Regions from separate parts of the Homo sapiens genome. Here region 2 is linked to region 1. The links come from fine-mapping of genetic effects on plasma protein levels. Region 1 holds a variant in brackets. A gene starts in the other region. All regions are shown on their forward strands.

Region 1 (5,381 bases):
AACTATCATGACAAGTGGCTGGAATCAGGATATATTTTGGGGAAAGGACCAACAATACATAGATAAAATGGACAGTATTTAGAGTTTCAGATTTTCTTTCTACCAAAGGATCCCTTTCTAAAAAAAAAAAAGAGTACAAAAGATCAATTTTAAAAACTGACCAAAGAAACACCACCACAAGATTATTTGTGTGATTGAAGCTGGGGTTGAGCCTGGGTACCTTGTGTTTTCAACACCCCTAAAACCCCGGCTGTTCCAGAGGCACCTACAGAGCCCCTTGGGTTCAGACGAGCAGAACTTGAAACCATGGATCGGAAGGAATAGAAATCTGCATATCTTTCACACAAGCCGTAACATTCTAAGCCGCATATTTGCAGGACGCTGACGTGGGGCTACTTCACCCACAGCCAGCAAGCGTCTGCGCCAGTTCTGGGATTTGTGTCCACCTTGTTGTAAGAAGGCAGCTGCTTGCGTGAGGCATGGCGGTGAGGAAACAATGCCACCCGGATCTCACCATTGGCCGTGTGGACTGGCTGTACCATGGGCCAGACGCATGTCTTGGGCAGACACTTTTTAGATGCCAACTTGCCTGTAGACAAAGATGACGCAGAGGTGGCCTCGAGGACGGCCTGTGTGATGGGTTGAATTTGTCCCCCGAAATTCCTGTGTTGATGTCCTAAGCCCCAGTGCTTGAGAATGTGATCTTATTTACAGATATCATCTTATAGAAATAAGTTAAAATGAAAAATGAGGTCAGTAGGGGGGCCCCCAATCTAACTACTGGTGTCGTTATTATAAGAAAAGGAAATGTGGACAGAGACACACAGAGGGAAGACGAGGTGAAGAGACACCGGGAAGGCCACCTACCTGCCAGGAGAGAGGCCTGGAACAGAGCCTTCCCGCACCGCCCTGAAAAGGGACCTTCCCTGCCGACACCTTGATCTTGGACCTACAGCCTGCAGGACTGTGAGACAGTGAGATTCTGTTGCTGAAGCTGCCCAGTCTGTGGTACTTTAAGGAAGCCCAAGCAAACCAATGCAGCGTGGTAGCCCACAGCTGGTGAAAAGATGGAATGAGCGACGGAGCCCCAGGCTTCCTGTCTACACCTCCCAAAGTGCGCTACGGGATCCTTTGGTGGGTGCAGGTTTGCAAGATAATTTTAGGAGGTGCAGGGTGCATAATTTCAATGTACATTATTATGGATTTATCTTACTGTGAAAATGCTTCTAAGAATAGTTTACTTAAGGTTTACATGCTACTCAAGATATAGCTTTAAATGCTAACAAAAAGTGGACTCAAATGAAAACATTCTCTTGCTGTGGTCCAGGGAATCTTGATGTTTTTTCCAGAGAGACTCGCAGCTTTCAGCTACAGCTGCCCTCCCCTTCCTGTCCACTGCACATCCCCACAACACACACACATATACATACATACATGCACAGACATCCACACGCACACACATATACGTACATGCACACGCATACATGCACACACATATGCATGCACACACCTGCACACACACACACACACACACACACACACACTGTGCGTCATGCCCTTACTAAGGAGGCATGGAAGGGAATGTGTGTCTGTAAGGAAATGAAGATGGCTCAAGCCCCTGGTTCCCTGGGTGTTTGCACAGGCACCCTCCCTGCAGACCTTTCTTTGGTCTCTTTCTCTCTCTTAGTGAAAGAGAGAAGCAGAGCCCCAGTGGGTACCCGGCTGCTTAGGGCTCAACCCAAGGTCACAAGCTTCCTCGAGAGCCTGGTGAGATGGGGGCACCACAGGGCCTCCCAAACCAAGGGGGCAGCGTTCAGTGGAGCCTGATGCCCAGGAAAGTGATAGACAAGATGTCTCAGTTCATCAAAGACCCAACCACAATGCAGTGAGGAAGGGCAGCTGCCAAAGGTTTTATTCTCCAGGAGGAGGGGCTCTCGGGGGCTGTGAGCAGCAGGCACGAGGACTTTATTGCACGTGTGGTTAGGTGATGACGACCTACAGCTGCACTGGGAACTGGGACTCAGAGTGCCCCGACCTCCTGCTCTATCTCTCTCTGTCCCTCTCTCCCTCTCTGTCTCTCTGCCTCTCTCCCTCTCTGCCTCTCTCCCTCTCTGCCTCTCTCCTTCTCTGCCTGTCTCTTTCCTTCTCTGCCTCTTTCCCTCTCTGCCTCTCTTCCCCTCTGTCTCTCTCTCCCTCTGTCTCTCTCTCCCTCTCTGTCTCCTCTGTTTCTCTCCCTCTCTGCCTCCTCTGTCTCTCTCTCCTCATATCTCTCTCCCCTCTCCCCACCTCTCTTTCTCTCTCCCCTCCTCTCCATCTCTCTCCCTCCTCCTTTCCCTCCCTGACCCCCATTTATGCACCTGGGCCCCCCTCCTGGGCAGGCACACACACAATGCCAAGGCCACTGTCTGGGATGTGTGGGCAAGGCTGCAGGACTGTGGTCCTGGTGTGGCACCCCCACCTTCCAGCACAAGTGGGGTCG[G/A]GGGTCCCAGGCGTGACTGCGCTCTCCTGCGTGGGCGCCCTGCACTCAGGGAAGCAGAAGCTGCAGGTCTCCACTGGCTCGGGGGATGTGCTCACAGGGCTGCCGGCTTCCATCGCGTGATCTGCAGAGGCGAGAGTGGAGGGCGTGGGCCAGGCCTGGCCCTGCACTAGGGTAGGGGTGACGGTGTGGGCAGCCGCACTCTCCCCCGACCCAGGAGCTAAGGGCAATCACCAGCGTAGAACGCCCCCAGACAGGTGTCAGTGTCCGCCAGTTGCTGACCAGAACCTGTGCCGGGGCAGGGGTGGGCAGGCAATTCTTGGCTCTCACTTCTGTCCAGCACCGAGCCTGCCACGCCCCCCAAGGGGACACCTCCTCCTGGGCTTAGCCCTGAAGGCTCTGCATCTGGAGAATCCTGGGCCCAGGCAAACCTGAAGACCGGCACCCCACACCCACCCTTCCCGGGTGCCACTCTCCCAGTTATCTGTCTGCCAGGATGTCTTAACCTGATTTTATCAAGGTATAGCAAGTAACAGGGATGAGCCCTGGGCCTCTCCACCTAGAAGCAGGGGCAGTGACAGGACCGAGGGATGGCCCGAGGCTTGTCACCCAAGCAGCGAGAAGGGCGAGGACCCCAGTTTCATGCACTCACCCTGGGAAGACTTGGCCGGACTTTGACGGGGCCTTGAGCGGGGCTGGCAGGAGCAGGGATCCCCCCTCTTCTTGAGGAAGCAGGCCACCGCCACCAGGAAGCAGCAGAGGACGGCACACAGGCAGAGCCCCAGCGTGCTGTAGACCAGGGCCACCTGATCTGCACTCAGCTTCAGCCCCGGGAGAGCTGCAAGACAGCATGAGACCCCTCTCTGCAGTGCCTTCTTCTCTTCCCGTCATTAGGCTCAAGCAATCCACATCCCCCCATCCCCCTGCTGTGAGCCTGTCTGGCTCCTGGAGAGGCTGGGCTCCTTTTCTGACCCTGAGGCTGCTGGGATGCTCTCTGGATCCTGGAGGAAGTTGATCCACTCCCCCATCCTGGCAGCAACTTTCTAAGGCCTCAAAGCTGGAAACGTGAGCTAGGCCTTCTTGTTGTCTCCACTTGCTAGGGCTGTAATTGGGACAGCGCTGGAGATGGGCTGATGGGTGAATCGACAGACGAACAGACGATGCTCCAGGGAGCATGTCTCTGTGCATCCTGAACTGGGCCCTTCCTCCAAGGAGAAAGCTTCCTGAGTGAGCGTTTACAGTCGTCCCTTGGTATCCATGGGGGACTGGTTCCAGGATCCCCTACAGATACCAAAATCCGCGGATGTCCAAGTGCCTGATACAAGACGGCCTGGCATTTGCATATAACCTATGCACATCCTCCTATACAATTAGAGTCATCTCTAGATTACTTATAATACCAAATACAATATAGATGCCATGTAGAAGGGTGTTATACTGTATTGTTTAGGGATAACAATGAGAAAAAATGGCTGCAGAGGTTCAGTACAGATGCAACTATCCCCTATCTTTTCTGAGTATTTTCCAGCTGCTGTTGGTTGAATCCACAGACATGGGTCGCACGACACAGAGGGCCCACTGTGTTTGAGAGTAGGACAGGCGACGTTACACTGAGACCAGGACAGCAGGTGCCAACCAGGAGGGCTTTGGGCATCAGGGCACCTGGCCACCCTATGACTCAGGACTTGTGCCTCCAGGTTTGGATGCCAGAGACAGACTCAGCCCAGGTGAAAGCCCTCCCCTTGGAAGTTCTCCTTATCCCAAAAGCTCTTCCTTGTCCCTGGAGCTGGGCATCCTCTAGGCGCTGGGTGGAAAGACAGATGAGCCAGATTTAAGATGACACGTCAAGAAGAGCGAGTCCCACTTCGTGCCGGGCACTTCCCCTACAGCACCCCCTTCATCTTCCCGCTCTGATGGCAGACAACTACCCCCATTAAAAATACTGAGAATTTGTATACCATCAAATTTGCTGTATTAAAGTGTACAACCAGTGGCTTTTAGCACATCACAAGGTTGTGCAGCAATGGCAACTGTCTAATTGGAGACAATTTTTATCACCAAACAGAAACCCTGTCTCATCAGCAGTCACTCCCCATTCCCTCTTCCCAGCCCCTGGCAACTGTTCATCTCTTTTCTGTCTCTGTGGATTTGCCTATTCCAGACATTTCATATTAATGAAATCATACAACACGTGGTCTTTTATGCCTGGCTCCTTGCACTTGGCTTTGAGTTTTCAAGGTCCACCATGTCCTGCCGTGCTGTGTATTAGACCTTCGTTTCTCTTTAGGCGGAATGGACAGACCACATCTGTTTACGCATTCAACAGGGAATGGGCATTTGGGTTGCTTCCACTTTCTGGCTATTGTGAATGACGTTGCTGTGAACATTCACATCCACATGTTTGTGTGGATGGATGTTTTCCATTTTCTTGGGTGTATACCTAGGAGAAGAATGGCTGGGTCACATAATAGCTCTGTTTTGTTTTTTGAGGACCTGCTGGACTGCGTTGCACAGCATCTGCCGTTCACACTCCATTTTACAGATGACAAAACTGAGTGTCTAAGATATTGTTCTCGGTCTTAGACCTGCACCCGGGAGCCGGTCTCACCAATTCCCAGGCCGGTGCTCCAAGCCCGCGGGCCACACAGCGGCCCCAGGGCTGGCACTGCCCGTCTTCCTCACACACGCTTTTAGATTCAGGAATCTCATAAAGTGACAGAGCTGCCAGGACTCTTAGGGGTCATCAGTGTCACTCTGACATTTACAGGGGGGAGATGGGAACTTGGGGTGAGTTCGTGTCACTCCGCCAGTCAGTGGCTGTCCTTCTGTCCAGTGCCCAGAGCTCAGAGAGGCCTAACGGAGGAAAGCAAAGACCCCAGGACCTGCAAACTTGGTGCCACATATC
Region 2 (5,381 bases), not on the chromosome of region 1:
AAGAGCCAAAGACAGGAGAACTCACCAAACTGTCCACTGACAGGAGCTGCAAAAAAATAAGAGCCAGAGATGAGCACAGAACCATGATTATTTTGTTTTAAGAAGATAATTCCCTTTTTTACCCATGCATGTATTACTTGTCCCTTTAAAAAATTCATTTAAAAACTCTAATAATTATTCATCAAATGTATATATATACACATAAATATACATATATATACATATATATATGGCATGGTATTTGGACTTCTACAATGAATTTTAAAAATGGTATCTGCCATCAAGAAGTTGACTAGTGGAAAAACAGAAACACGATTTAAAATAATATAACACAGGGTGTAAGTGCAATAACAGAAATACACATGGGGTATGTTGGGGGCAGAAGGGCCACTAGCCCAGTGTGTAGGATATATGTGTGTGTGTAGAGTGTGTGTTTGTGTGTACATGTGTTGAACAGGATGGGTGGATCCTTGAAGGTACCTGAAGGAGATGATACTTCACAAAACTGTGAGTGAGAACATGAGTCTGCAGGTGGATGTTAGCATTTGTGTGTGGTAAGAGGCGATTTCTACCTTTCAAGGTAGAAAGGGCACAGAAGTGGAGAAATGACATTGGTGCTCAGGAACTGGGAGTGTTGGGGGAAATAAGACCAGAGAAGCATGCAGGGCCTGAGTAAGTGGTTCTAATTTTATTATAAAAGTGATAAGGAGTCATGGAATGGTTTCAAGGAGGAGATTGACAAGGTTAGAATTTCAGACTTTGATGGAGCACTCTGTCAGTGGACAGAATTTAATGGGACAATATGAAGCAGGGAGACTGATTAGAAGGCAGGGCAAGGAAATGGACATGAATTAAGCCTCCCTTGGGCACCAGACTCCAGGCTATACTCTTTTCATGAGATCATTGAATCCAAGGGCTCATTATCATCATGCCTAATTTTTAAACAATCAACTGATGCTCAGATTATTTAGACCTGATGCTCAGCCCAAGAGATGGTAATGTGTAATTTTTGTCAGAGTATTTATCCAAATTATCTTCATTATCTGCTTGTTTATTTTCCCTTCTCTATAATGCAAGCTCTATGAGACCTAGGACTTTCCTTATGTTCACCATATATCCTCCAGGACCTATAACGGTGAATGGCATATAAAAGATATTCCTTTAATGTTCACTAAATATATTTGTGTTGTATAATGAATTAATTAAAGAACTAGGTTAATAATATAGGAATAGAAGGATAGAGATTTGAGAAATGGGTAATGAAGAGAGAGAGGACACAAAACTGGCAGGTTTATCAATTGAGTAGGTATTCTGCATATGGGTTGATTTATTTATTCAACAGATTTTTGGAATGCCAATCATACTCCAGAGCAAGGCAATAGAAATCCAGGAGTGTGTGAGAGACAAATCATCCCTGTCCACATGAGGCTATTGGAGACTTATCCAAACTTAAGTGTTTTACTGAGAACAACAAATTATTCACCATTCACCTGAATATTTTGGCTTCCTTCATCTTTGCATTGTTTTAAATGAAGCTAATATTTTTGTGAGTGGTTTCTATATGGTCTGCATTTACGTAGGTTATTTCATATAACCATGTCAATAATCCTGTGAGGTAAGCACTAGGATTAACTGCATTTTGTAGACCAGGAATCTGGTAGCCAGTAGGTGGCAAGATGAAGTTTGAACCTAGATCCTGTTTGACCCCAGAGCCCATGTTATAAACTTTGCCCTCTCATGCTCAGGACCTGGCCATTACCCACATTGTGTGGGGCCACACTGAGATGTATTCCTACTTCAGGAATTATAGTCCATGCACCTTCCAACTGTGAGGTCCTCTTTTCTTATATCACGCCTGCTCCATTTCTGCTCCTCTAGCTCCTACTCACCTCTAAGTTTCATGAAGTCTTTACTAGCTATTTTGAATACAGTTTATTATCTGCCTACAGCATTCATTGGTAACTTTGCCTGGACAATTATTTAACTGGGAGCTTGTTGCATAGCTGCTTGAAAGTACATTGGCCTTGCTGGGAGCCCTTCTATGTCATGACTTTCCAGAACATAGACGTAGTGTCTCCTATGGACTCTAATTGCTCAGCACCTGTGCATAGATATTACTAAACACATTTGCTGAACAAATAAATAAACATATTTAATTATAATATTTAACCTTTAGTAAAAATCAACCAGTTCGCACATATGAGTTGATAGAGACTTACGTACACCCACAGGGACAAAGAGAAAGTCATATGCTTTAGATTTATCCTTGCTTTGTCCACCTACGCCTCTGCGACCTCCTCCACCCCATGTTCTTAATCAGCCAATTGCTGCAGTGGTTTGCAATTATGTACAAGAGAAAGACCTGTCTTTCCCGTTAGAAACCTTGCCTCTTATGCTGGGGACCAGGATCTGGCCTTGTCATACAAGGAATAAATACATCTCCTCTGCAGAGAGGAGAGTGGGCTCTTCTATGAGTAAGACAATATGAACAAACAAACATGAAACATTCTCTGGACTTTAAGAAGTACTTTTTAAAGAAAAAAATAAATGAAATTTTAATTGTTGTGGTTATTGTGGTTTCCTACTCTGTAAGATTGAAAATTCCTTCCAGCTGTGGCCATTTTCTTCAGCCTCAAGAGAAAGCCCTGAGCTACAGAGTAAAGTTCAAAAATACAGTCTCCTAATGTAGGAGAGAGTCTCTCAGCAGGGGCTGAGCCCCAAGAAAGGACCAGGCCTGCGGTGGAGAGAGAAGCTGTCCCGATCCCACCCAGGGCCCATGGTGAGCCCTTTTACTCACCCAGGACCAGTAATATCACCCACAGCAGCATGAAGACCTGGACCACCAAGGGCTGAGATCAAAAGAGAAGTTTCCTCAATTCCAAAACAGGTTTGGACTTGATCTTACAGTCAGGACACTGCACACCAGCTCCAAGGAGCACATCTGAGAAGCTGTGCTCTCAAAAAGAGCAGAATGCATTAGTGAATTGAAAAAAGGAAGTGGGAGTACCCGTCTTCAGCTGCTAATCACAGTTTCCTACCCGATGATCAAAGAAAAAAAAAAGTTAAGGTTTTAAAAAATCAAATACCCTTGACCCTACATTTTTGCTATTGGGAAATTACCCTGAAGGAAGTATCTGAAGAGAGTACTATAAGAACGTTTATTGTAGCATTCATTATTGCCTAAACACTGGAAACAAAACAAAAAACCATGATATGGGGACTGTTTAAGAATATTCTGATTCATCCGTATGGTGACAAGCAATCATTAAAGAATAAGGTAAATCTGAACATGCCAAGAAGGGAAGACCACCTTGTTTGATGTGAAGAGAATAAAAGTGAGATATAGATTGGTTTTGTAGTATTATCCCATTGGGTAAATATAAAAAATAGGATATATGTGTACATCAACTCTTTTAAGTATACTTTCTTCTTTTCCTGGAAAGTACACACAAAAATATTGATTATGTTTGAGGAGCAATAGGTGGGAAGAACACAATTTATTTTATGTATTTCTGTACCGTTTGATTTTTTAAAAAATTACCAGGTGAATGTATAGCTCTTATGATTTTCTAAAAGTCAAGTTTCCATCCTGGTATACTGGTCAACAGAGGTTCCTAAGACATTAGCTGCCACGAGGAGTGCCAGTTTCTTTCTTTCAAATATTTTCTCACCCTTTCTCTCTGGGCCCATACCTTGGTCTTCCTAAGGGGGCATTTAATTTTATATCTACAAATGCACATCACCTTAGGTATATTATGTCACATCTGACCCACTGCACCCTGAGGCAAGAAAACCATACAGGGGTTACAGGGGTGAATAGAGATTAAGAGGAGAACTTCAAAGGGAACACAGAATCTTTACCTACTTTTGGTGCTAAAACAAATAGTGCTGCTATGAACATTCTTGTATACATTTATTGGGGCATATGCGCACATAATTCTGTTGGGTATATATCTGGGAGTGGAAGTCCTGGCTCATAAGGTATGCATATATTCAGTTTAGGAAGTATTACCAAATTATTTTCCAAAGTGGTTGTGCCAATTCCCACCACACCCACCAACCAATGTATGAGAGTTATCATTGTTCTAAAATTCTTGCTGATATTGGTATTGTCATCTAGTAAAATCTGGCCGTTCTGCTAGAATTATCTCAATGTGGTTTTAATTTGTATGTCTCTGGTGAATTTGAGAATGAGCATTTTTTCATAGTCTAATTGGTGATGTAGATATCCTTTTTATGTGCAATCTCTGTTCAAATATTTCCTCATTTTTCTCTTAACTTTCAGTCTTTCTTTTCCTGTTTTGTAGTTATTTTAAACCCTGAATATAAACCTTTTGTTGGATATATGTATTGCAAATGTCTTCCTTCAATCTGTGGCTTGCTTCTTTGCTCATTGATAGTGCCTTTTGATGAACAACCATTCTAACTTTGACATAGTCCAGTTTATCAGTCTTCTCCTTTGTGGTTAGAGATTTTTGCATCCCTTCTAAGAAAGTTAGTCTACTCCAAGATCATAAAGATACTCTCCCAGGTTATCTTCTAGAAACTTTATTTTTTACCATTTATTTTATATTTATAAGAGCATTGCAATTGATTTTTGTGTACAGTTTGAGTGTTTATATTCACTTTTAACTTAAATACAGATAATTTATCCTGCCCTATTTATTGAAAGTTGATTTTTTCCACAGTACAGTGCAATTTCACCTTTGTTATAAAACAAAAAGCCATGTAGGTCTATTTTTGGAAACTCCTTTCTTGTCCATTAGTCTATTTTGTCTATCCTCATGCCAATACCACACTCTTCTAATTATTGTGGCTTTATAATAACTCTTATTAACTGATAGTTTAAGTCATAAAATGCTGTTCTTCTTCAAAATTGTTATGGCTATTTTTGGCTTTTTGAATTTTTCTATACATTTAAAAATCACCTTGTCAATTCCTGTCCCCTCTCTCCCCAAAAGCCTAGTAGATTTTTAATAACTGGGATTGCATTGGATTTATAAGTTAATTTGTATAAATTAGAAAAGATTTAGTCTCCCAATCCATAAACATACAATATCCCCTCATTTATTTAGGTTAACTTGACATTCTTTCAGTAATTTTCTATAGCTTTGCCTCTGGAAAGTATATCTTTTGGTAGGTTTATCCTTAGGTTATTGATATGTTTTTTATGATATTGTAAGTGACATCATTAGATTTTTTTCTAAATGTATATTGGTATATAGAAATATAATACTTTTTTGTTTTACTGACCATTATTTTTATTTTTTTGAGACAGAGTTTTGCTCTTGTCCCCCAGGCTGGAGTGCACTGGTGCGATCTTGGCTCATTGCAACCTCCACCTCCCAGGTTCAAGCGATTCTCCTGCCTTAGCGTCCCAA

Alleles and levels. Alleles are on the strand shown, and positions count from the first base shown. The strength of an association depends on the size of the effect and on how common the allele is.
For the plasma level of the protein whose gene starts at base 2,981 in region 2, A is the high allele of the variant in region 1 and G is the other (moderate association).

Evidence for each region. PIP is the posterior inclusion probability: the model's chance that the variant is causal. Protein levels are from antibody-based Olink assays in UK Biobank. Linkage for the fine-mapping came from a reference panel and not from the study's own genotypes, which makes the PIPs less certain.
Region 2: it holds the start of FCRL5, and the variant in region 1 is fine-mapped to the plasma level of the FCRL5 protein (UK Biobank, PIP above 0.99).

Annotation. Positions count from the first base shown.
Region 1 is chr17:16,937,198-16,942,578 of GRCh38, forward strand. TNFRSF13B (TNF receptor superfamily member 13B) reads right to left here. Exons shown (of 5, transcript NM_012452.3): 4 at 3,129-3,314; 5 at 1,884-2,600. The coding sequence ends at 2,350. Among named protein-coding and RNA genes, the nearest start is that of TNFRSF13B, 32 kb to the right of the region's middle. RefSeq lists enhancers at 1-483, 1,281-2,121 and silencers at 1,907-1,956, 1,967-2,016. The variant G/A (reference allele first, on the strand shown) is at 2,480.
Region 2 is chr1:157,549,535-157,554,915 of GRCh38, forward strand. It overlaps FCRL5 (Fc receptor like 5), which reads right to left and starts at 2,981. Exons shown (of 17, transcript NM_031281.3): 1 at 2,798-2,981; 2 at 26-46. The coding sequence starts at 2,828.